2 separate regions of the Homo sapiens genome follow, and region 1 is linked to region 2. The links come from fine-mapping of genetic effects on gene expression. A gene starts in region 2. The other region holds a variant in brackets. All regions are shown on one strand. Distances are from middle to middle. Region 1 has its middle 35 kb from the start of SLC35D3. Region 2 holds the start of SLC35D3 (solute carrier family 35 member D3).

Evidence for each region.
Region 1: its variant is fine-mapped to the expression of SLC35D3 in whole blood (INTERVAL, PIP above 0.99).

What each region holds. Positions count from the first base shown.
Region 1 is chr6:136,951,624-136,963,290 of GRCh38, forward strand. No RefSeq gene overlaps it. Among named protein-coding and RNA genes, the nearest start is that of SLC35D3, 35 kb to the left of the region's middle. RefSeq lists enhancers at 4,935-5,503, 6,640-7,206 and a silencer at 5,668-5,962. The variant A/AGTGGGCT (reference allele first, on the strand shown) is at 5,677.
Region 2 is chr6:136,915,850-136,927,516 of GRCh38, forward strand. It overlaps SLC35D3 (solute carrier family 35 member D3), which reads left to right and starts at 6,452. Exons shown (of 2, transcript NM_001008783.3): 1 at 6,452-7,018; 2 at 8,036-9,811. The coding sequence starts at 6,580. The coding sequence ends at 8,847. RefSeq lists an enhancer at 5,474-5,980.

The DNA.
Region 1 (11,667 bases), 36 kb after region 2:
AGTCTAAGCACTCAAAAATATTTGCTAATGGATATTTGAATGAGTAAAATTCCCTTACACAGCAGGGTTGAGTGAACCCTTGGTATCTCTGTGACTCCGGACATATAAAACCAAACAACAAACAAACAAATGAGAATACCAGTTTTGATGTTGTGAAGCTAGAAAAGAGAAAATAAAGAGCCAAGAGAAGAAATTAAATATATCCTTTCAATTTTAAGGTAATTGCAGGCAAGCATTGGGTTTCCTCAGCTCTGCATCCTGTAGGTTGCCCTGCCTGATCCACACTAAGTGTTTGGTAACTGGAAGCTTCAGGGTGGGTACAGATTCTATAGGCAGATACTAATAGTTGGGCAGGAAAGGAGATTATTAAATCTTCACTAGGCTTTTCACAGAATTATTCACTGAACCCACATGGAGGCTAACCCTGTCTACACATGTTAGTTATTTCCATAATAGTGCCTTTTTGGAGACCATGTTGTTAGGTTATATTGTACTATAATATAATTATGCTAAAGTATTATGCAGACTGAGTGCTTATAACCTATGTCTACGCTAATTGCAAAGGAAAGGCAAGGTTCCTGCCCTTTTCGAGTTTGCTTTGAAAGACAGGGATTAAAAAAAAAAAAAAAAGATAGGGATTTTCCCAAGCACAGAGAGGGCACATAGGAGTGTAAGCAGAAGACAGACAGGAGGAAAGGAGGAGAGCCCTGTTAAGGCTCAGAACGCATCCCAAAATACGGCACCTTGGCGATGGAGAAAATGACTGAAGCAAGGTCACTCTGGCTTCTGCCACCTTCTCCCGGGAGCATTGGTCATAGGGGATTCTCTGACCTACCTCGCCTGACACTGGGCCACAAAACCCTCATTCCAGAAGGGTCCTGCCCTACAACCGGACCAAGAAAAATCTAAACAAACAGGCCTTACTGGGATCCCTCCTTCAGTCTATTACCATGAGATCACACCCTTTTGTCCAATCACATTTCTACATGCTGTCAATTCCTCATCAAACCTAAGCATAAAACACACAGTGTCTCCTAGGTCATGGGGTCTTTACTTCTGAAGGCTCCTGTGTCACATAAAACTTAGGTTAAATGCAATTGGTTATGCTTTTATCTTGTTAATCTGTCCTTCGTTATGGGGGTGTCAGTCGAAAACCTCACGGTGGTGAAGAAAAGATGTATTACCTTTTATCCCCTACAGACTTAACCGGTCGGCCACTCTGGCTCTGTGTGTGTGTGTGTGTGTGTGTGTGAGAGAGAGAGAGAAAGAGAGAGAGAGAGAGAGAAATATTGCCTCTCCAAAGGCCTCCTAAAATCAACCTTTTTGGGAATGATAATCCATTAAGTCATCCAGTGATCATTGTCTCATTATGAACTGTTTATCAGACACTTCCTTGGTGTCAGAATAAAGAGCAACCACTTATTGACTGGCGACCACAGATGGGCACTTTGCCAAGTTCGCTGCATGCTCTCTAATTTAATCCTCTCTTGCAACTCTGGACAATAGCATTATTTCCCCCATTTTATTAAGGGGATCACTGAGGTTCACAGGAGCTAAATAATCTACTGAGATCACTCAGTAATAAGTGGAAGAGACTGGGGTGAGGCAAGAGGGGCACCTAGAGTGCAACACTTAGGGAGGCAAACTCTCTGATCTGTGCATGTGTGTGCAGGGTTGATGTGAGCCTGAACCGGAGATGAGTGTCTCAAGATTTGCACCCTTGGTCCTTGCTTGCCTCACCTGGTCCTGGTCCTACGTCCTTCTGACTCAAAAGCCTGTGCTCCTAACTACTGCACCATAGCTGAAAGCAGAACCTTATTGATGGCAACGCTGGGGAGGGAAGAGGTGTGCACTGGAATGAGGTGGAGCAGTGGGCTTAAAATTTTTTGCTTGTGTGTCCCCAAAGAGGATTTTTAAATGCTATGTATTCTTTGAACATTTAAAAATTGATATTAAAAAAATTCAACTTAAATCTACACAATTGCAAAGGATGGTAATTTCCACTTTTGCTTTAAAATAACATTGTTAAATTATTTTTAATGTATTCAATGGAGGCTACGTAGCATAATGATAAGAAAGGCACAGGTAGACATGAGAGAGAAATTTTATACCCTATTCTTTTTCCTTAAACTCTTTGAAATCATATTTCAATTTCATTCTCCAATAGAATTTTATCCTAGTATTTTCTGTGCTTAAAAATGTTAAATATATTTCTGAAACAAAAATATGTATATAAATTGAAATAGATGTTCTATTTTCTTTGACCATAGGACTCCAAGTGTTTAAAGGTTTTCTTTTGGATTTAGTTATCATTACAATTGTTATTAGTACTCATAGGTCCTCAACATCATTATATTACAAGTATTAGTAGTTACTAAATATAAAGATACAATTCCATTAGAACCACATCTCTTAACAAGATAGGGCATTTAAAAAGTTATTTCATTGCAGGAGGAGCAGGATTAAAAAAGCAAAAAACAAAGTTATTTTATATATTCATGGATGAATATTACTTAGAAAAAGATAGGGTTCAGCTCCAATTCTCATAACATTTCTGACACAATAAAGAGAAGTATTCTGTGTCATGGGTCTTTTTGAACAATTAGTGTGCACTGGCCTTGAAATGTGCTTTCTCAGACAACATCTCATCGCCACTGGTATATTGCTAGTGCATTAGTGGACCAAATGATAGTAAAATCAGAAAGGCATAGGGTTACATTCCAATTCTCATCATATTTGTCATTTTTACATATGTAAGTGTTGAGAAACTTTGTTCACTAAAATAAGTAGTTGGAAATGAGAAGTGTTTTGTTGTAGGAAAGCCATTCACTTCTCCAAGTTATGTCCTAACAAAATCATATGGTGATATATTGTGAATTTTTTTGTTTGTTTGTTTGAGATGGAGTCTCACTCTTGTTGCCCAGGCTGGAGTGCAGTGTTGTGCTCTCGGCTCACTGCAACCTCCACCTCCCGGGTTCAAGCAATTCTCCTGCCTTAACCTCTTCAGTAGCTGGGACTAAGGCACCCACCACCACGCCCAGCTGATTTTTGTATTTTTAGTAGAGATGGGGTTTCACTGTGTTAGCCAGGATGGTCTCACTCTCCTGACCTCGTGATCCACCCGCCTTGGCCTCCCAAAGTGCTGGGATTACAGGCATGAGCCACCGAACCTAGCCAAAAATTTTTTAATGATTTATCAGCCCTTCCTCCAAATAGGTGGAAGCTACTTGACTTGGAAAAGGATTTGTTACCCAGTTGTTGGAGTCTTTTATGGTCTCAACACCAACACAAGGATTTCAGATTAATTTCATTTTGGGTACCTCAGAGGCTTTTAAGCCCTGAGGCATTCCATGGTGGCAAGTCCTGGTAGATGAGATGGGTGCCTTCCTTTTTATTCTTGTGAAGAAAGGGTGCCTGTGAAAGGGGAGATGGGAACAGAGAACCAGCAAGACACCTGAAACACACAGGCTCTTTCTCAGGAAGAATGGTTTTAGGCAGAAGCTCCTAAGGACGATGAGGATCTGGGAAGTGATTTCCATAATACGACATGTGCCTATTTTGAGGATCACCAATGTAGGGCATGATGGATGCATTAATGAAAAAGGTGGTAAGAACTCTTTTGAACGATAGGATGGGCAAGGATGGGAGTAGGGTGTAGAGAGGGCTGTGGGGGAAGAGGAAGGGAGTACCAGTCAAGTAGGGAAATAAGGGAGAACTGAAAGAGCACACAAGAGTTAATTCAGTTTTGACTGTGGCTGGCCCCTCTGTGTTATAAACTGACCATTGACTCACTCTCACCAGCACAACATTTAGAACCCAGTGTTTTTGTCTTGAGTTTTGTTTTGTCAATTAACACCAAAGCAGGCTAAATAATAATACATGTTTGGTTGTGAGACAGTGTGTTGGAGGGGCTGATTTTTATTCAGGGGTTTAATCAAGAAAGGAATTAAGATTAGAATTCAAGGTTTATAAATCAGGTGAAGATCAGAAGATAGGAAGGGGACAATTTGGAAAAAGGGGAGAGGACTTAAGATAAAGCCTGGGCACTTTGATTCTGTGTCCCCGGTTTCCATCATTAACATTGTTTTAGCTGCAAATGTTGCTTCCTCTTCCCAAATTAAATTAAACTGTCCTTAGAGCTGGAATAATGTAGTTCAGTTCTCTCTAAACTGGAGTATACTATCTCTCAGCACTTTCAAAATGGCTAAGGGTCTTTATTTTGTGTGTAACCTTATTTTGTGTGTAATACACATGAACATCTCGAGTGTCATTCAGAAACAGGCCATTTCTCGGATAAGTCTATTCATTTGCAAATTGACAGATCTCTATTAATAGCAAGAAATGTTTGCTATCAGGTTTACATTGTTACCAATGTAATTCAAAATCATCCTTGGTAAGATTAGGCTTTTTGCGTGGAAAATTAATTAAGTTAAAATTTAAAAGCCATCTTTGAATGAGACATGAGAAGTAAAACAACAAAATAAAAATTTAAAATCTTTGCATGAATTCAAAGTTCATGAAACTCTTAACTTATTTTGAGCACATAATTTTAAAATAAAAATATTTGAAAATTGGTTTTATATTTTTTAGCATAGCTTTTAACTATTCACTGGAATTGAGAAACTCACCTGCCTATTTGTAGAAATTCTGCTTTCTAAATATGGCTCCTAAGCATATATATGTAACTGATAGGTTTTTTTTTTTTGTTTCTTTGTTTTTTTAAACAGAGTCTCACTCTGTTTCAAAAAACAGTGACGTGATCTCAGGAGTGCAGTGATGTAATTTCAGCTCACTGCAACCTCCACCTCAGCCTCTCTAGTAGCTGGGACTACAGGCATGCGCCACCATGCCCGACTAATTTTTTTTTTTTTTTTTTTGTATTTTTAGTAGAGATGGGGTTTTGCCATGTTGTCCAGGCTGGTCTTGAACTCCTGGCCTCATGTGATCCACCCGCCTTGGCCTCCCAAAGTGCTGGGATTACAAGTGTGAGCCACTATGCCCGGCCTGTATCCCATTGTTAACATATATCTTTATGAAAGCAAAAGCAAATGTTATAGTCACACAATTATAGAATAATGTCATGTATATAATTTCTATTTAAATGTAAAGTCAAAAAAGTCCTCTGAGATGGAGCCTTCCCTTATGAAATGCTCTACCCTGCTCCTGGCTGATGGCAACCAGATCATATTTCAAACTGCTAATCAAGTTGTTAATTTATAAAATCGAGTAGATGGGAAAAGGTTTCTACTTTGGCTTTGACTTTAATTATGTTAACTTTTTCCTTTCTCTCCTAAAATACAACTTGTTAGCAAATGCCACCTAAATGGTACTTCCTTTGTGACTTCGCAGCTGTCATTGTTATGCATTCATCAGGCCGGAAGTGCTCTTCTGTGTATTTTTGGAAAGCTATTCATCTGTTTTAGCTAAACAAACAGAGCTGTTTAAGCTGTTAAAATACAGTACCATAGTTATTTGTTTTTGCATCTTCGAGTTGCATGTAAATGAAAGGTTCGGGCTAATTGGTTCTAGGAATAGTATCCAAAGCAGTTCTAGAGAATTTCTCCCGGTAATTAAGTGGAATGCACTCTGGGACTCTAGTCGGCCTCACACAGAAGGGCCTCTTGGCTTTCCTTGTGGCTGTTTGTGCTTATCTCAGCCAGCTCAGTGGTTGTGGGT[A/AGTGGGCT]GTGGGCTGTGGGCTGTGGGCTGGGGTGGTTAGGAGGGGAGGAAGAAAAAAGTTAATTACGGCCCAATGCAGGCCGACTGGAGCTCAAGGAGGAGGCACTGCAATGGAGAAAGAGGAGCTGGGGCAGGGCCGGCTGCATAGGCCTGCGACTAGTGCTGGCACACAGCCTCTGAGCCCAGAAGGGGGCCCCGCACTCCCAATGTCTGCAGCCACCGTCTTGGAATTCTGATTTATCTTTGAATACATGGTGTCTTTTAAGTGAAGTCCTAATGGGATGATGGAGCAGAAGCTGGGACCTTGGAGCCTCCCGCCACCTCCCTGCCTTTCCTGGCCCTGGCTGCAGGCTCCCCTTCCACCCCCCTGCCTTTCCTGGCCCTGGCTGCAGGCTCCCCTTCCACCCCCCCACCCACCCACCCAGTCCCAGGCTCTCCCCCACCATCCACCCACCCAGTCCCAGGCTCCCCCACCACCGCCCACCCAGCCCCAGGCTCCCTTCCCACCCACCCACCCAGTCCCAGACTCCCCCACCACCTACCCACCCACTCTCAGACTCCCCTACCACCTACCCATGCAGCCCCAGGCTCCCCTCCCACCCCCCACCCAGTCCCAGGCTCCCCCCGACCACCCAGTCCCGGGTTCCCCCACCATCCACCCACCCAGTTCCAGGTTCCCCCACTGCAACCACCCCCTGCCCCAGTGCAGGCCCTGGTGGTCTCATGCGCATGCTCACCCCCTGCCCCCCACGCCAACCCCTTGCTTCTGAGGATCTGCACTCACCTTGCAGTATTGTGCCGGTGGGCGTGTGGCATTACATAGCAAATTACAAGCACCAGGAAGGGGCAAGAGAGAAACCGTGAGGGGGAGAAAGAAAAATCCTTTCTCTTGGTTTTTGCAAAAGGGACCCCACATTGTCATTTTTCACTAAGCCCTGAAAAGTAAGTAGCAGTCAGGAGCCAATGCACTGGTTCACCACCAAAGCCGGCAACTCAAAAAGCCCAAAGGAAGGCAATCTTGCCAACAACCAGAACGCTCCTAAGAACCTGCAGGAGCTTGACATCCACAGGTGAAGTCAAAGTTTCTCCGGCCAGAGTAAGCATCTAGGCGATTAAGCAGCATCCAGGTGGGGGTGCCTGTGACACCTGGAGCCCCAGAGGGCTTGTTACAGTGCTCTTTTAGCTCTGGGCTCTAGCGCTTGGGCTTCAGCTCTTAAAAGCCATGAATAGAGTAAGGATGAACTACAGGGTGTGGGGATAGAATAAGGGACTTAGTTTTTCAGAGAAGTTAAATGATGTAGAGTTTAGACTCTGATGCCAGGTGGTCATGGTTCAAATCCCTTTCATCCATTAATACCATGACCTTGGCCAAGTCACTCAATTATTCTGAGCTGCCAGATAAGGATCTGTGGAATCATTTCTTGATGAGTCTGATATTTTGCTTCTTTCCCATCTTTTCAGTTATTAAAAATTAAATAAAGTTATTATTTAAAAAGTGGAAATACTTCAATTTAGTCATATTTCTATCTGGTTAGGTTACAATGCCTTATTTCCCTCTATTGATGTCAGTCATGCTTCTGGTGGTTGCACGACAATCCTAATATAAGTGAACATAGGTATAATCTTGGCATCGAGAATGCCATTTATATGCATGATAGGGACGGGGGCAGAGAAATTCTAGGCAGAAAAGTGTGGTCCCTGACGAAATCTCACCCTCAAGCCAAAAAGCCTGAAACCCGTGGTCCAAAGTGAGAACTTCTATCCCTGTTTTCCCATGTGAATGCTGCCTTTCCCTAAACTACCTATGGCCCACTCTGCCCCTATCCTGTGCATAGAAGACTCCAGACTCAGCCAACAGAGAGGAGAAGCAGCTGGGCGTTGGGGTCTAGGGCTGGAAGTTGGAGAGAAGCAGCTTGACTTCAGAGGGACAGCTTGAGCTTCAGAGAAGAATTTGGAGAAGAATCTGGCCAAAGACAGCTGGACTTCAGGGGAAGATTACCTATCCCCCATCCCCTTTTCAGCTCCCCTTTCCACTGAGAGGAGACGGCTGGACTTCAGGGGAAGATTACCTACCCCCCATCCCCTTTTCAGCTCCCATTTCCTCTGAGAGCCACTTTCCTTGGCAATAAAATCCCCTGCATTTACCATCCTTCAATTCGTTCATGCGACCTCATTTTTCCTGGATGCCAGACAAGAGCTTGGGAGCCACAAGTGTGGACATAAAAGGCTGTCACACTGGCCCTTTGCCCTCGCTGGTGGAGGGCAGTCGTCTCACACGACGAGGCAAAGGGCTCACTGAGCTGTTAACACTTAAGCCATCAGAGGACAGCAGAGCTAAGAGAGCACTGTAACACGCCCTCTGGGGCTCCAGGTGTCACAGGCACCCCCACCTGGATGTTGCCATGGGGCCCGCACAGAGCTTGCTCTTGCTGGTGCCGAAGCGGCTGGCCAGTTCCAGGCCTCGTGCACTCCAGTCCCCGCCTTGTTTGCTCGTGCACTCCCTCCTGTGAGGAGTGGAGAGCTGTGGGCTGAGTAAACGATGCACCCCTGTCTCGAGTCCCACAAAGGGGTCAGGCAAATATCCTGCCTCGTGTACACACACATATCATTTTTTTCTTTTTTGGGGGCGGGTACAGGTAAGGGAGGAGACCACCCCTCATATTGTCTTATGCCCAATTTCCGCCTCCAAAGAAAGAAGTAAAAACTAAAAGGCAGAAATGAAATCCACAGGCAGACAGCCCAGTGCCGCGCCCTGGGCCTGGTAGTTAAAGATCGACCCCTGACCTAACCGGTTATGTTATCTATAGATTCCAGACATTGTATGGAAAAGCACTGTGAAAATCCCTGTCCTGTTCTGTTCTGTTCTGATTACTGGTGCATGCAGTACCCCCTGCTTGCTCAATCCATCAGGACACTCTCACACGGACCCCCTTAGAGTTGTAAGCCCTTAAAATGGACAGGAATTGCTTAGTGAGGAGAGCTTGGCTTTTGAGATGCAAGTCTGCTGAAGTTCCCAGCCAAATAAAGCTCCTTCCTTCTTTAACCCAGTGTCAGAGGAGTTTTGTCTGCGGCTCGTCCTGCTACACAGGGTCTCGCTCTGTCACCCAGGCAGGAGTGCAGTGGCGGGATCAGGATTCACTGCAACCTCCATCTCCCAGGCTTAAGTGATACTCCCACCTCAGCCTCCCTAGAAGGAGTAGCTGGGACCACAGACGCATGCCACCATGCCCAGCTGATTTTTGTATTTTTTGTAGACTGGGTTTCACCATGTTGCTGAGGCTGGTCTTGAACTCCTGGGCTCAAGCGATCTGCCCACCCCAGCCTCCCAAAGTGCTAGGATTACAAGTGTGAGCCACTGTGCCCAGCCACATATAACTTTTATAGGGCAAAAAAATTCTCCATTACCAAGCTTATTAAAAATTGGGGGAAAATATTTCAACATCTGTATCAGACAAAAGGTTAATATAAATAATAAGGAAAAAATTATAATCGATAAGAAAAATTTCAAAACTCTATTAGAAAAAAAAACAGGAAAGGCAATTTGCAAAAGAATTACAAATGATTATTACCTAACAAAGAAATGTTCAACTATTAATCAATAGAAACAGATATTTGAAAAGCTTCTACTTCTCAGTCTGACAAAATTTTATCAGCATTGGCAAGGGTGTGGTGGAAGCAGATGCTCTTACATCCTGTTGGCTTGAGGCTTCCCGAAGGGCGCTTGGGCTTCAGCTCTTAAAAGTATTAGAAAGTGAATATTCTTTGATCTGGCATTTTACTTGTAGGTATTTATCCTGAAGAAATAAATAGACATAGATATACCTGTGTTTATCAGGAGTATGGCCACTGTGATTTATACTAGTGAAAATTGTTAACAGCCTAAATGCTCAACAATGGAGATTGGTTAAATATATAAATATATATTTATAAACATATAAATAATAAATACTATGATATAATACATATATATTTGTAGATATACGTATATGTATGCTATACATATATGTATAGCTGGACTATATGGATTACATGTATATAGGATTTTTAAATTATTAAAATAATTATATAAATGTATATTAAGGCTGGGTGCAGTGGCTCACACCTGTAATCCCAGCACTTTGGGAGGCCGAGGCAGGAGGATCACTTGGGGCCAGGAGTTCGAGACCAGCCTGGCCAACATGGCAAAACCTGTCTCTACTAAAAATACAAAAATTAGCCAGGTGTGGTGGTGCATGTCTGTAATCCCAGCTACTTGGGAGGCTGAGGCATGAGAATTGCTTGAATCTGGGAGGTGAAGGTGGCAGTGAGCCAAGATTGCGCTGCTGCACTGCAGCCTGGGTGGGACTATCTTAAAAAAAAAAAAAAGTATAGTAAGAACCTGGAAGGAACTTTACATTATACATTTTTAAGTGAAAAATAGCATGTGTGTATTTTGGAAAAGCAGAAAAGGTTTTAATATTAACCGTTCGTCTGATACAGATATTGAAATATTTTCCCCAGTTTTTAACAAGCACTGTAGTTTGGTGCATGGAATCAGAAGTCAGACTGCTTGGCTTTGGATCATGGCTCTGTCCCTTTCTGGTTCCACCTCTTAAAAGCTGTGTGACCATGAGTAAGTTACTGAACATATGAACAGGACAAGAACTCTGGACGTGTGGGGATGGAAGGTGGAACTGAGATTCGAGTCCCATTTGAGCGCAGAGCCTGTATTCTTAACTTCTGGGCTACATGGAGCCAAAATAAACAGTGGCAGAGAGAGAGAGAGAGAGAGAGAGATGCAGATAAATAAAGATAGTGAAGGGTATTGGATCGATTATGTTTTAAGTACTTTCAAGGCAAGATTTTACTTTGTCTTTGAATTCCCATCATTTAGTTCCACACCTGGTGCATAATAGACACTCATAAATGAATCATTGGGTAGGGTCATAGGCGTGATGCAGAGCAGAAATGCTTAGGTTCTAACAGTGGGGCCATGGGTTGGCCATTCAGATTTGTAACTAAAAGAAAGAAAGAAAGAAAGGGCCGGGTGCAGTGGCTCACGCCTATAACCCCAGCACTTTGGGAGGCTGAGGCAGGCAGATCACCTGAGGTCAGGGGTTTGAGACCCTCCTGGCCATCATGGTGAAACCCCATCTCTACTAAAAATACAAAAATTACCCGGGCATGGTAGCACACGCCTGTAATCCCAGCTTCTCAGGAGGCTGAGGCAGGAGAATTGCTTGAACCTGGGAGGTGGAGGTTGCAGTGAGCTGAAATTGTGCCACTCTACTCCAGCCTGGGGGACAGAGTGAGACTCCATCTTAAAAAAAACAAAGAAAGGAAAGACAAAAAAGAAAAGAATAGGGAATCTTCTAAAATGAAAAAGGGGCACTAAGAGAGAGTGTGGAATATGGTAGATGAAGGGATCAACTCCTTTCGGACCCACAACCTCTTCTTTTTAAGGCTGCTTGAACTATTTATTAGTCTGTAATTAGAGTCCCAAGCGTTTCCTTCTGTTTCCTAAAGGGTTGGAAAAATGCCCCGAGGGCTTGTCACCATAGGCCTTCCCCACTTCTAATCAGCCAGATGGCAGCTGCAGGAAGTGGCAGCTAAAGCAACAATCACAATGTGGTGTTGACAGTGTAGATCTTCCACTGAATGGGGAGTATGAGGAAGCGTAGACAGTGGAGTTTTTCAGCCTGGATTTTAGAATTGGTTTTTGTCAGTTGGGCTTTATATATTAGTTGGGAATAACTAAATAATTTAAACAACAGCTATTTGATTATACTAATCTATTAGGCCAGAATCGAAAAGTGCCTTTTAAAAAGTCCTCCTGGATTAAAAATTTCTCTTAGAAACATTCATAATTCATTGCTGCTCTTACTAATGTCAAAATCTTACTGACTCAGTAAATGGCAAAAGGTGCATGTGGTGTTTGTGCTTATGTATTTATTTCATTATTTATTTGGATATGGGATACTGCATAGAAAGAAAACACACTCTGACTCGTTAGGTATAT
Region 2 (11,667 bases):
CATTCTTTCCGGGTTGGGAAATCAGCATTTGTCTCCTGGCTGCTGAGCTCTTAGCTTTCATCTTGTCTGCCTCCCCACAAGCTCCTCCTACACCTGCAGGGAACTCAGTTACTGATTGTGGTCAGGGCACCGTGTAAGATGCTTTATATATGTTATCACTTTTAATCTCTATAACATCCCTGCAAGGTAGCCCTCCTTATTTTCAGGACAAGGAAGCCAACGTTCTCAGGAGTCATAATAGCGAAAAAATAATGAAACGAATTTGAAATCTGGAATGATTGAATCCAAACCCATGGTCCTGCCACATAGCCTCCTTTTCTTAGGAATAACAGAAATTAGCACACTGAGAAATAGTTAAGATGTAGAACTCTCTGGCTGTACCTGATTATTCCTGAGAGAACTGACAGAATTGAGTTTCCAAGTCTCAAGAGCTAAGCTGAACCTTAGTCTGGAGTGACCCTACCAAGGTCCATCACACCCAGGGAGATCCAGGCTGAGAGTCAGCTATCCTTTCTGCCTTTGGCACTTCTTAACTGTGTATCTTAGCAATAATTTGGCTCTTCCAAAAATGAACTCGAATTTTTTACTTAACAGGCTTTTCCTTGTATATGCTGATCCACTTAATTGTTTTTTACTTTCATGTTAATAATATTCTCAAATCTGTACACCTACCTTCCCCACCTGGGTTTCCCACAAGCCTTTGCATTCATTTTGTTCCAACCAAACTCACTTGCCTACTAACCCAGCTTTTACTCCTACACATGCCTTTTCATTTGTTGTCAAAAGTCAAGCTGTTAACAAAAGATCCATTTGGGTCAAGCTAAAGACCTAAACACCATCCTTGGTCCTTCCCTTATTCCCACTTCTCCACACACATCAAATGAGATCCTTTTTACCCCCTCATCACTGCTCCCTTATATCTCTTCCCCTCAATCCAACCACCATTGCCCCAGTTCAAGCCATCATTAGCTTTTCTCTGGACAATTGCAGCAGCTTCCTAAATGGTGTGTCTGTTTCCAGTTCTGTGTCCTCAGAGCCATCCTCCTCAACACAGCTGCCGGAGACGGATCTCAAATGCAATCTGATTACATCAATTTCAGTATAAAACCTTTCTCTGCTTATAGGATTACCTATGGGGAAAAATTCAAGCTTACTAACCAAGCAGCCAGGGTCCTCTGGGGATAGCCCTTGCCTCTGTCTGCAGCACCGCTTCTCTTCACACAAAACCAGTGTGCTCACAAATTCTTCATGTAAGTGATGCAAGTTTTCAGCTGGTCCATGTGCCTGGACTGCCCTGCTCTTGGCTTGGTAAGTTCTTACCCATAATTTAAAAGTCACATTAGGCTGGGCGTGGTGGCTCAAGCCTATAATCCCAGCGCTTTAGGAGGCCAAGGTGGGTGGATCACCTGAGGCCAGCCTGGCCAACATGGTGAAACCCCGTCACTACTAAAACTACAAAATATTAGCCAGGCATGGTGGCGAGTGCTTGTAATTCCAGCTACTTGGGAGGCTGAGGCAGGAGAATTGCTTTAACCCAGGAGGCGGAGGCTGCAGTGAGCTGAGATTGCACCATTGCACTCCATCCTGGGTAACAAGAGGGAAACTCCATCTCAAGAAATAATAATAATAAATAAAAATAAATAAAAATCCCATTAAATAACTAAAGAATAAGATTGACAACATACAAAAATTAAAATTGCAAAACACATCACTAGCAAAGCTAAAAGAGGACATAACAAAAGGATATACTGGCAACTTATATAGAATGGGTGGTTAATAGCCAAACTTTACAAAGGGCTCTTAAAAATCACTAAGAAGGCTGCGCATGGTGGCTCACGCCTGTGATCCCAGCACTTTGGGAGGCCGAGGCAGGTGGATCACCTGAATTTAGGACTCCGAGACCAGCCTGGCCAACATGGTGAAACCCCGTCTCTACTAAAAATATAAAAAATTAGCTGAAGGTGGTGGTGCACGCCTGTAGTCCCAGCTACTCAGGAGGCCTAGACAGGAGAATCGCTTGAACTCTGGAGGCAGAGGTTGCAGTGAGCTGAGATCGAGACATTGCACTCCAGCCTGGGCAACAAGAGCGAAATTCCGTCTCAAAAAAAAAAAAAAAATCACTAAGAAGACAACCAGACAAAAATTGGACAAGGATATCAATAAATAATTCACAGAAGTGGAGAGACAAATGTTTACTACATTTCAAAAAGTTTCAGTCAGACTGTCTCAATGATAAATGCAAATTAAAAATGAGATCCCTTTTTATTTTTGCTTGTCAGTTTGGCAAACATTAAAAATATTGATAATATCTAGTATTGGTTAAAGTGAGAATACTGTTATATGCTTTGTTAGAAGGCAATTTGGTAACAAATCAAGATTTTATTTTATTTTATTTTATGTTATTATTTTTGAGATGGAGTCTCACTCTTTTACCCAGGCTGGAGTGCAGCCGCATGATCTCGGCTCACAGCAACCTCCACCTCCCGGTTTCAGTGATTCTGCTGCCTCAGCCTCCAGAGCAGTTGAGATTACAGGCACGTGCCACCATACCTGGCTAATTTTTGTATTTTTAGTAGAGACAGGGTTTCACCATGTTGATCAGGCTGGTCTTGAACTCCTGACCTCAAGTGATCTACCTGGCTTGGCCTCCTAAAGTGCTGGGATTACAGGCATGAGCCACCGTACCCGGCCAAAATTTTAAATTACCCTTTGACCCAGCAATTCCACTTCTAGGATTCCCTCTCTCCCCCTTTCCCAAAATACCTGTAGAAGTATGGCTATGTCCAAGGGTATTCATTACATCGTTTGCTAAAACCCAAATGCCTGTCAACAGAAAGGTTATACTGTAGAACAGTTATTGAAAAGAATAAGTCATTTGAAAAAATATGCTATTTCTATGTAAAAAATCACTCCAAAACTTAGTAGTTTTAAACAACACACATTTATCATCTCACAGTTTCTATGGTCAGGAATCCAGAAACAACTGAGTTGTTTGAGCTCAGGTTTTCTCATGACATCACAGCTATTCACATGGTTATCAGGCCTCAATTACTCAACCACATGGGATTTTCCATAGGCAGAATGTCCCTACAATGTGGCATTCGGCTTCCCCAGACTCAATGATACAAGAGAAAAAAGGACATACAAGATGGAAGTCTCAGTATAACCTAAAGTCAGGAGTGACCGTCATCACTTCTGCCAGGTTCTGTTAGCTACACAGACCAACCCTGGTACAGCGTGGGAGGAGTTAACATAAGGGTGTGAATACCAGGAAGCGGGTATCACTGGAGACTATCTAGAAGGCTAATTACCATAATACGCTTTTTAAAGTAGGAAATTATAGACAAATATATATGATATCCTAGTTTTGTTATTTTTTTAAAGGAGGAGTTTGCGTGTGTATAAACATACATACAAAAAAGACTGAAAGTTTCCACACTGAACACAGCAAGCTCTGTGTAGTAAGGTTGGGGATGGTGAACACTGAAGAGAGCGCGTTTACTTAATTATAAATTTGTTTTTCTTTTATGTACCACAATGAGCCTGTGTTACTTTTATAATTAGAAATAATGAAGTAAGTTTTCAAAGACACTGTAATTCCTTCTCCAGGAAGCTTTGTCTGCTACTGCTGTCAAGCTGATGTACTTGCCCTCCTGGCGCTCCCCCCTTTTCTGCCACACAATCCCACTGTTGCTAAGGATGAAGGCGCTGTGTTCATCTTTAAGTCCTCTGTGGCTAACAGAATACTTAGCACAAAATACTTGTACTATATGTTTGTTGAATGAATGGATAAACTAAAGGATTTATTTAATGTCATTAATATTTATTAAGTAGCTCCAAAGGTGATGTGCTTGAGTCTAGACCCTTGGTACCCTGATACCAATAGGTCAAATAGCTATTTAACCTTTAGATCTACATTTTTATTCATCTAGATCATTTAACCTCGCTAAACATGGTATTCTTAATTTTTCACAATTTTTAAAAGGAGCTCATCTAGTATCTGGTTTTGTGGGAGATGGGGGTTAAGGTTTTTTTCTTTCCAAAAGAATTGCATGCAACAAAGTGGAGAAAATGTGCGGTTTTATGCCTCTGTAGGTTTCAAATATTAAGCTAAATTGTCTTGCATAAATGAGAAGAGTAAGATAGCTGAATCAGCCCCAAATCTTTTACCTAATGTTAGTATCACAAATGGATGCAATTATAATTGCGGGCAGAAATGAATCATTCCAAAAGTAGGTTTGTGCAGCCACTTCTTTATATTAATAATATGCACTTAGGATGGCTTAAAGCAGCCATGCTTTTATTGGGATAGTCTCTAGAAGCAGAAATCTGTTATTTGCTGATATCTGTAAAAAGTTAATTTTCAGAGTTTTGAATCAATATATTTTGACTATACCACACACATACACATAATTTGAACTGGTGCTTCAGACTTCATTATTTCCTAAATAACATTAACTCTACAAAAACAGAGTCACTTAAACAGCCAATAGTGTGTAACCACAAGTTTTAGCAACAAAAACCAAGGGCTCCCCAGAGAACCGGAAGCACGTGTTTCAGTATAATGCTTTCCAGCTATTCCTGGAAAGTTGGCACCCTGGGCCATTCACAAACTTTTTTTGAGTGCCCACCTGTCGGGAGCAGGGACGTGGCCCTCCTAGGCACCGGGCACATAAGCTGGTGGACTGGTTGACCCCGAGCTCTCTAGAGCTCACCAAAGTGAGCATCCAGAGCCCCAAATGCTGGCCCAAATGAAGGGCTGCTGTGATGCTGCTGATCCCTGCTGTAATTTTTTTTTCTTCCTCTGTTGCGGTAAATCACGACTTCAGCACTTTGGCTGAAGTGTCGCGTTCAGCACAGAGGTGGAAGTAAGAGGCAGAAAACAGAAGAACCACGAGAGAAATGGATCCTGTCTATTAAGGCAACGTGATGCAGCGCTAAAAGGTTAGGAGGTTACGATTCCCGGGGCTAAGAGAAATAAACTGCTGGTGGTGAACGAAAGGGGTGCTGGAGCGCAGCGATCTCGAACCTTTCCCTTATAGCCAAACCCTGGCCAAGGCCACAAATTTCAAATCGCCTGAAAACCAAACTGTCTGGCGCTTAACGGTTACCTCGGCTGAGCGAAACCCTTGGCTGCTGCTGATTTAACTACAGGTCCGCGCGAGTTACTTTCCAGGGAACTGAATTCAGAACAAAGAGTTACCGAAGCCTTACTCCCTCTCCAAAATTAGAATTCCCTTTTTCTCTTAGTCATATAGGAAACACACAGTTCACAAGTCCTGTGGTGCAAAGGTGTGAACCCTGGCCCAGGGAGGTGGTGACTCTCCCCGCCCTCCGCCTGCCGGTTGTCCTGCTTCCGAAAGCAACCCACGACGGTCCCGCAGGGTGAGGGTTCCCTGGGATCAGTTCCCTGGGATCCGGAGAACGCCACGCGGAGTCTCCCTGCAGGGTGAGGGGCCCCGGGTTCCCGCCCCCTCCCCCTCTACTCTCCCATTCTGCGAGCGCAGCCAGCCTCCCCTCCCACGCTTCGGGAAGCGTCGCCCCCGAGCTCCTCGGTTCCTGGTGGTGGCTACTCGTGTTAGTGACTTCGTTTCTGCGCGTTTGCTTATTTTCATCTTTGCCTCAGTTCGAATGTGTCCCCGCCACCAGGCCCCGCTGCTGGGCGAGACCACTGAACCCCCTGAAAGCTTCCCCGGAGCCGCGCGCATAATCCCGGGACCCTCTCTGGAAGGCGTGCGGAGAGCGGTGCGCGTGGCCTGGCACCGGAAGGAGCCAGCTTCCGGGCTCCGAGGCACCCCCTGGACAGCGCCCCGGGCCGCGGGTTCCTCCTCCGATGCCCGGGCGTCGTCGCCGGGATCGGGAGCTTCGGGGGCCCGCCGGCACCGACGGTTTTCGCTTCCCTGGCGGGCAGCTGGACGAGGTCCCGCCGCTGCACCGGGAGGGACAGTGGGTGGAAAAAGCCGCTGCAGCGCCGGGGCGAGGGGGCTGGGGGCGCCGTCACTTGTTGCGACCAATAAACGGCGCTCGATCCTGATGCGCTGTTTCTAAAATCTTTAGCTGTGTCCCGATCCCTCCAACCCAAGCCCCTCGGCCAGGAGGAAGGGGCAAGCGAGAGCCGCTGGCTCTGTGGGGGGAGAGGGGCGCCGCGCCCCAAGAGCCCCCGTCCCGCCCTGCGGCAGCCGCCCCGGGGCGCCCAGCCGCCCGCTTCCCTCCGCAGAGCGTCTTCCCTGACGGTGAAACCGCGCGGGACACAACCCACCGCGGCTCATCACCCACTTACAAATAGCTGTCGCTAGGATTCCCGCCACTCCTCTCAGACCGGCCCCCCCGCCACCTCTGCCACTTTTCGGAGTCCCCCGCCCTCGTCACTGCCTCCCCGGAGCTGCGGGGCAGTCGGACGCAGAGCTGCCTAACCGCAAGAACGCCTGGCCGGAGCTGCCCTCTGCAGCCGAGCCGGCGCCCCCTGCCCTTCGCCGCCGCGCTGGGCGGGCGCCCCCGCCGCCCTCACTCCGCTGCTCCCGGCTCCTCGCGCGCAGGTCGCGGAGCTCCGCCACCGCTGGGTGCGGCGAGGCCGGCGCGATGCGGCAGCTGTGCCGGGGCCGCGTGCTGGGCATCTCGGTGGCCATCGCGCACGGGGTCTTCTCGGGCTCCCTCAACATCTTGCTCAAGTTCCTCATCAGCCGCTACCAGTTCTCCTTCCTGACCCTGGTGCAGTGCCTGACCAGCTCCACCGCGGCGCTGAGCCTGGAGCTGCTGCGGCGCCTCGGGCTCATCGCCGTGCCCCCCTTCGGTCTGAGCCTGGCGCGCTCCTTCGCGGGGGTCGCGGTGCTCTCCACGCTGCAGTCCAGCCTCACGCTCTGGTCCCTGCGCGGCCTCAGCCTGCCCATGTACGTGGTCTTCAAGCGCTGCCTGCCCCTGGTCACCATGCTCATCGGCGTCCTGGTGCTCAAGAACGGCGCGCCCTCGCCAGGGGTGCTGGCGGCGGTGCTCATCACCACCTGCGGCGCCGCCCTGGCAGGTGAGCGGGCCCCCGCGCCGACCCCCAGCCGACCCCACCCACCCCGCTCCGTCGGGCAGAGACCGCGGGGATCACTGAGTTCAACGACCTCACTTCCAGATGGGGAGACTGAGGCAGAGAGAGCCGGAGAGCTTTGAGAGTGGTCGCTCAGCTCGCAAAAGGGACTTCCGAGACCCAGAGAGCTCCCCAGCGCCCCACCAAGTCCCCCTGCCCCCTAATGTCCTGGCTTCCGACCCTCGCCCATGCTTCACCCGGCATCGCCCTTCCTGTCGCCCCCTCTCCTGGTCTTCCCCTGTCACCCCATTCTCCGGGAGAGGTGGGAGGGCCGCCTGAGCCTGGGAGCTGGAGTCCTCCAAGCCTGGACCAAGCCGGAAGGAGGGGGCCGTGAACTTCCTTGGGTCACGAGGGGCTGGAATGGAGGTGGGGGATGGGGGCGAAGCTGAGGGTTCCCGGGGCTACTGCGGGGTGTCTCGTGCTGCGCAGGGGGCTGCGGCCCTGGGGCAGACGACCCAGGTGCTGAGCGAGACGAGAGCCTGGGCAGGGGGAAGCTTCACTGGGGGCCAGAACAGGCGTTCTCCCCCGCGCCTGGCCCGCTCCGGGTTGCAGGCCACTGGCTGGGGCTCCCTCTCCCTTTGGTGCCCCACGGGGCAGGGGCTCCGGGGTGCAGGTACCACGCGCCCAAGTGACCTCGGTGCCAGCTCGGGGAAGCCACAGCACCTGCCCCGAGGGCATCTGCGCTCTCCGGGGCCTTTGTCTTGGACAGAGGAAGATGGAGTGACCCGGGGATATGGCGGGAAGGCGCTCTGAGCACTGAGTTTGGCTGTCGCATTTGACACGGGTGGCCGAGGGACGGCGGGCGTCTGTCACTCAGGAATCCGGTGGGCAGAGCTGGGGCGCGAACCCAGTCTCCTTTCCTACCCGACGCGTTTTCCCCGTGGGTCCCCGCCCACGCCAACCTGCTGTCTTCTCTCTTTTTCCTTCCCGCCCGGGCTCGGCCGTCCTCCTCGTGCGCCGCAGGAGCCGGCGACCTGACGGGCGACCCCATCGGGTACGTCACGGGAGTGCTGGCGGTGCTGGTGCACGCTGCCTACCTGGTGCTCATCCAGAAGGCCAGCGCAGACACCGAGCACGGGCCGCTCACCGCGCAGTACGTCATCGCCGTCTCTGCCACCCCGCTGCTGGTCATCTGCTCCTTCGCCAGCACCGACTCCATCCACGCCTGGACCTTCCCGGGCTGGAAGGACCCGGCCATGGTCTGCATCTTCGTGGCCTGCATCCTGATCGGCTGCGCCATGAACTTCACCACGCTGCACTGCACCTACATCAATTCGGCCGTGACCACCAGCTTCGTGGGTGTGGTGAAGAGCATCGCCACCATCACGGTGGGCATGGTGGCCTTCAGCGACGTGGAGCCCACCTCTCTGTTCATTGCCGGCGTGGTGGTGAACACCCTGGGCTCTATCATTTACTGTGTGGCCAAGTTCATGGAGACCAGAAAGCAAAGCAACTACGAGGACCTGGAGGCCCAGCCTCGGGGAGAGGAGGCGCAGCTAAGTGGAGACCAGCTGCCGTTCGTGATGGAGGAGCTGCCCGGGGAGGGAGGAAATGGCCGGTCAGAAGGTGGGGAGGCAGCAGGTGGCCCCGCTCAGGAGAGCAGGCAAGAGGTCAGGGGCAGCCCCCGAGGAGTCCCGCTGGTGGCTGGGAGCTCTGAAGAAGGGAGCAGGAGGTCGTTAAAAGATGCTTACCTCGAGGTATGGAGGTTGGTTAGGGGAACCAGGTATATGAAGAAGGATTATTTGATAGAAAACGAGGAGTTACCCAGTCCTTGAGAAGGAGGTGCATGTACGTACCTATGTGCATACACTTATTTTATATGTTAGAAATGACGTGTTTTAATGAGAGGCCTCCCCGTTTTATTCTTTGAGGAGTGGGGAAGGGAAGAAAAGAAAGAAGCTGAAAGGTACTGACACAGAGCAACAAAATTAGCACCTGTGTGAATTATTTAGTGTGACTTCACCTGAGGCATCACAGAGACAAAAGAATGTGAAGCTACTTAACAAAGTAAGGCAACGTTTCTGCTTCAGACTCCTGGCACATTTACTTTTTGTCATTATAACCATAACTAAATATCTGCATGTACCAAGAGTCCCTAAGCCACCCCCTCCAAAGATGGAGTGTAGAAATGATGACAGCACTTAGTAAGTTCAAAGATGACATTCAGGGATGCATTTTTTGATGATAGAACTACAGTTTTTATCGCCAGCTGGGCAAAGAGTATATTGCTGAAATGATATATAAATATATTGAATTGATGTTTACTGTTTATAGTCATCTGAAATATCATATTTACTCTGATTCTACTCACTTGTTTTTTAAAAATAAGTGTCCTATTATTGTATTATATATTGATAGAAACTGTTAAAGCTATTTTGAAAATATGAGTTCTTAGCTTTAATCATGAAGTCTGAAGTTTGCTTTCAGTAATTATTTTAAAAGTTGTTTTGGTTCATTGCTTTATAATATTTATTATTGAATGCCAAACCTGTTCTTTTTTTTACTGTGTCCAATATTCTTTCAAGCAAATGCAATGGCTGGAATATAATTCAGAATTAACTGAAACCCAGCCAGAAGAGGGACCACCTGTAAAGCAAGTCCTTTCAAGTTTCACTGCACATCCCAAACCATGTTACAAAAAGAGCAACTGCTATATTCACATTATGATATTTTTCTATCTTAAATTTGTCAAAATAAAGTATGAGTCTAACTATTAAAGGATACATTGTTAGAAATTTATTTTAGACACATGTTCTATTGTTGCTGTATAGTTGTTTGTGTTTGCCTCCAATGTGTGGTCATAGTATCCGAGTGTAGGGGCCGCACCATTGGAAACTTCCTAAATTAACAAAGCTGTTTGGTTTGAAATAACAACAAAAACAGAAATGCATCTTCCAGTGAAGGAAGCTGTTAATGGTGTGGTGCAATGGCTCATGCCTGTAACCCAGCACTTTGGGAGGCCAAGGCAAGCAAATGACTTGAGCTCAGGAGTTCAAGCAAGCCTGAGCAACGTAGCAAAACCCCATCTCTGCAAAAAATACCAAAAATTAGCCAAGAATTTTGGTGTGCACCTGTAGTCCCAGCTACTCAGGAGGCTGTGGTAGGATGATCACCTGAGCCGGGGAAGTCAAGGCTGCAGTGAGTTCTGATTGTGTCACTACACTACAGCCTGGGCAACAGAGCGAGACCCCGTCTCAAAAACAAACAAACAGGGCATGGTGGCACGCGCCTGTAGTCCCAGCTACTCGGGAGGCTGAGGCAGGAGAATCACTTGAACCTGGGAGGTGGAGGTTGCAGTGAGCCGAGATCGCGCCATTGCTCTACAGCCTGGTAACAGGACAAACAAATAAACAGAAAATGATAAAACACTCCATCGCACTGAGGTACGAAAGCCATCCACACCAGATTTCAGTTAACATGGAGTCTGAGAAGTAATAAATGGTCATGTCCACCAAGGAGGAAGCCTTCTGTGAGCTCTAGGCAGGAGAGATACTTTGAGAGTGAGGGGGCACTGAGATCTGCCAGCATGTTGCTGAGATTCTCAGATAGTAGCATCTTATATTTTTCTTTCTTTTCTAAAAATCAAATCAAAGCAAAAAGCAGAAGCAAAAATGAAGTTTCAGCTCCATCAGTTTGGCTCCACAAGCAGCTGAGCAAGTGTAATTGTGGTTTGTGATTGGCCCTGGTTTGCTGGTTTCCACAGGCAATTGACTATTTCCAGAGGTGCCTCCACAAGCCATTTAAGATGCAGGAGACCTCACATACTGCAGTTAGAAATGGTTTGCCAGGGTTATGATGACTTCTTCAAAAATAAGTGTTAATTTTAATGCTAACATGCCAAAGGGCAACATCGCGTTGCAACTATATAAAGCTGAGAATTAATGAAAAGCAGCAAAGTTGGATGAAGTATATATTTCTTGTGGCTATCACTGCCAGATAAGTGGAATGATTGTTTTTTACTGAAAAAAAAAATGTCCTTTGGTTAAAAATGTGAGTTTACCTTTATAGCAAAAGGATTAACTCTTTCCTGTCAATGAACTTGTAGAGACGCTGTATTTGACTTCTCTAGAGAAACAGAACCCATAAGAGAGTGAGATTTTAAGTAAGTGGTAATGATGGGGCAGTCTGAAGTCTGTAGGCCATGCTGGCAGGTGGGAGACTCAGGCAGGGTTTCCATGTTGCAGTCTTGAGGCAGAATTGATGTTGCTACTTCTGGAAACTTTGCTCTTTGGTCTGTAGGCCTTCAACTAATTGGATGACGCATCTTACAAATGTCTTTGCAGCAACATCTAAACTACTATTTGACCAAACAGCTGGGTACCACAGCCTAGCCAAGTTGACACATAAAAGTAATCCTTCTTCCACTGTCAGTAGTACTGGAGGCAATCCAAGACTCTGGTCCACCCTGACCAGAGTCAGGGCTCTGGTAGGGCCTTGCATCAAGCAGGCAGGGGCCTTCTGAGGAGCTCCAGGATATTCGCATGGGTGGGACTCCACTGGAAGTCACTCACCATTGTTGCTAGACTGATCCAGTCTTTGTCAGTCTACCCCATTCTGACAACTTGGATTCTCCCTTGTTTCTGAGATTACACCCC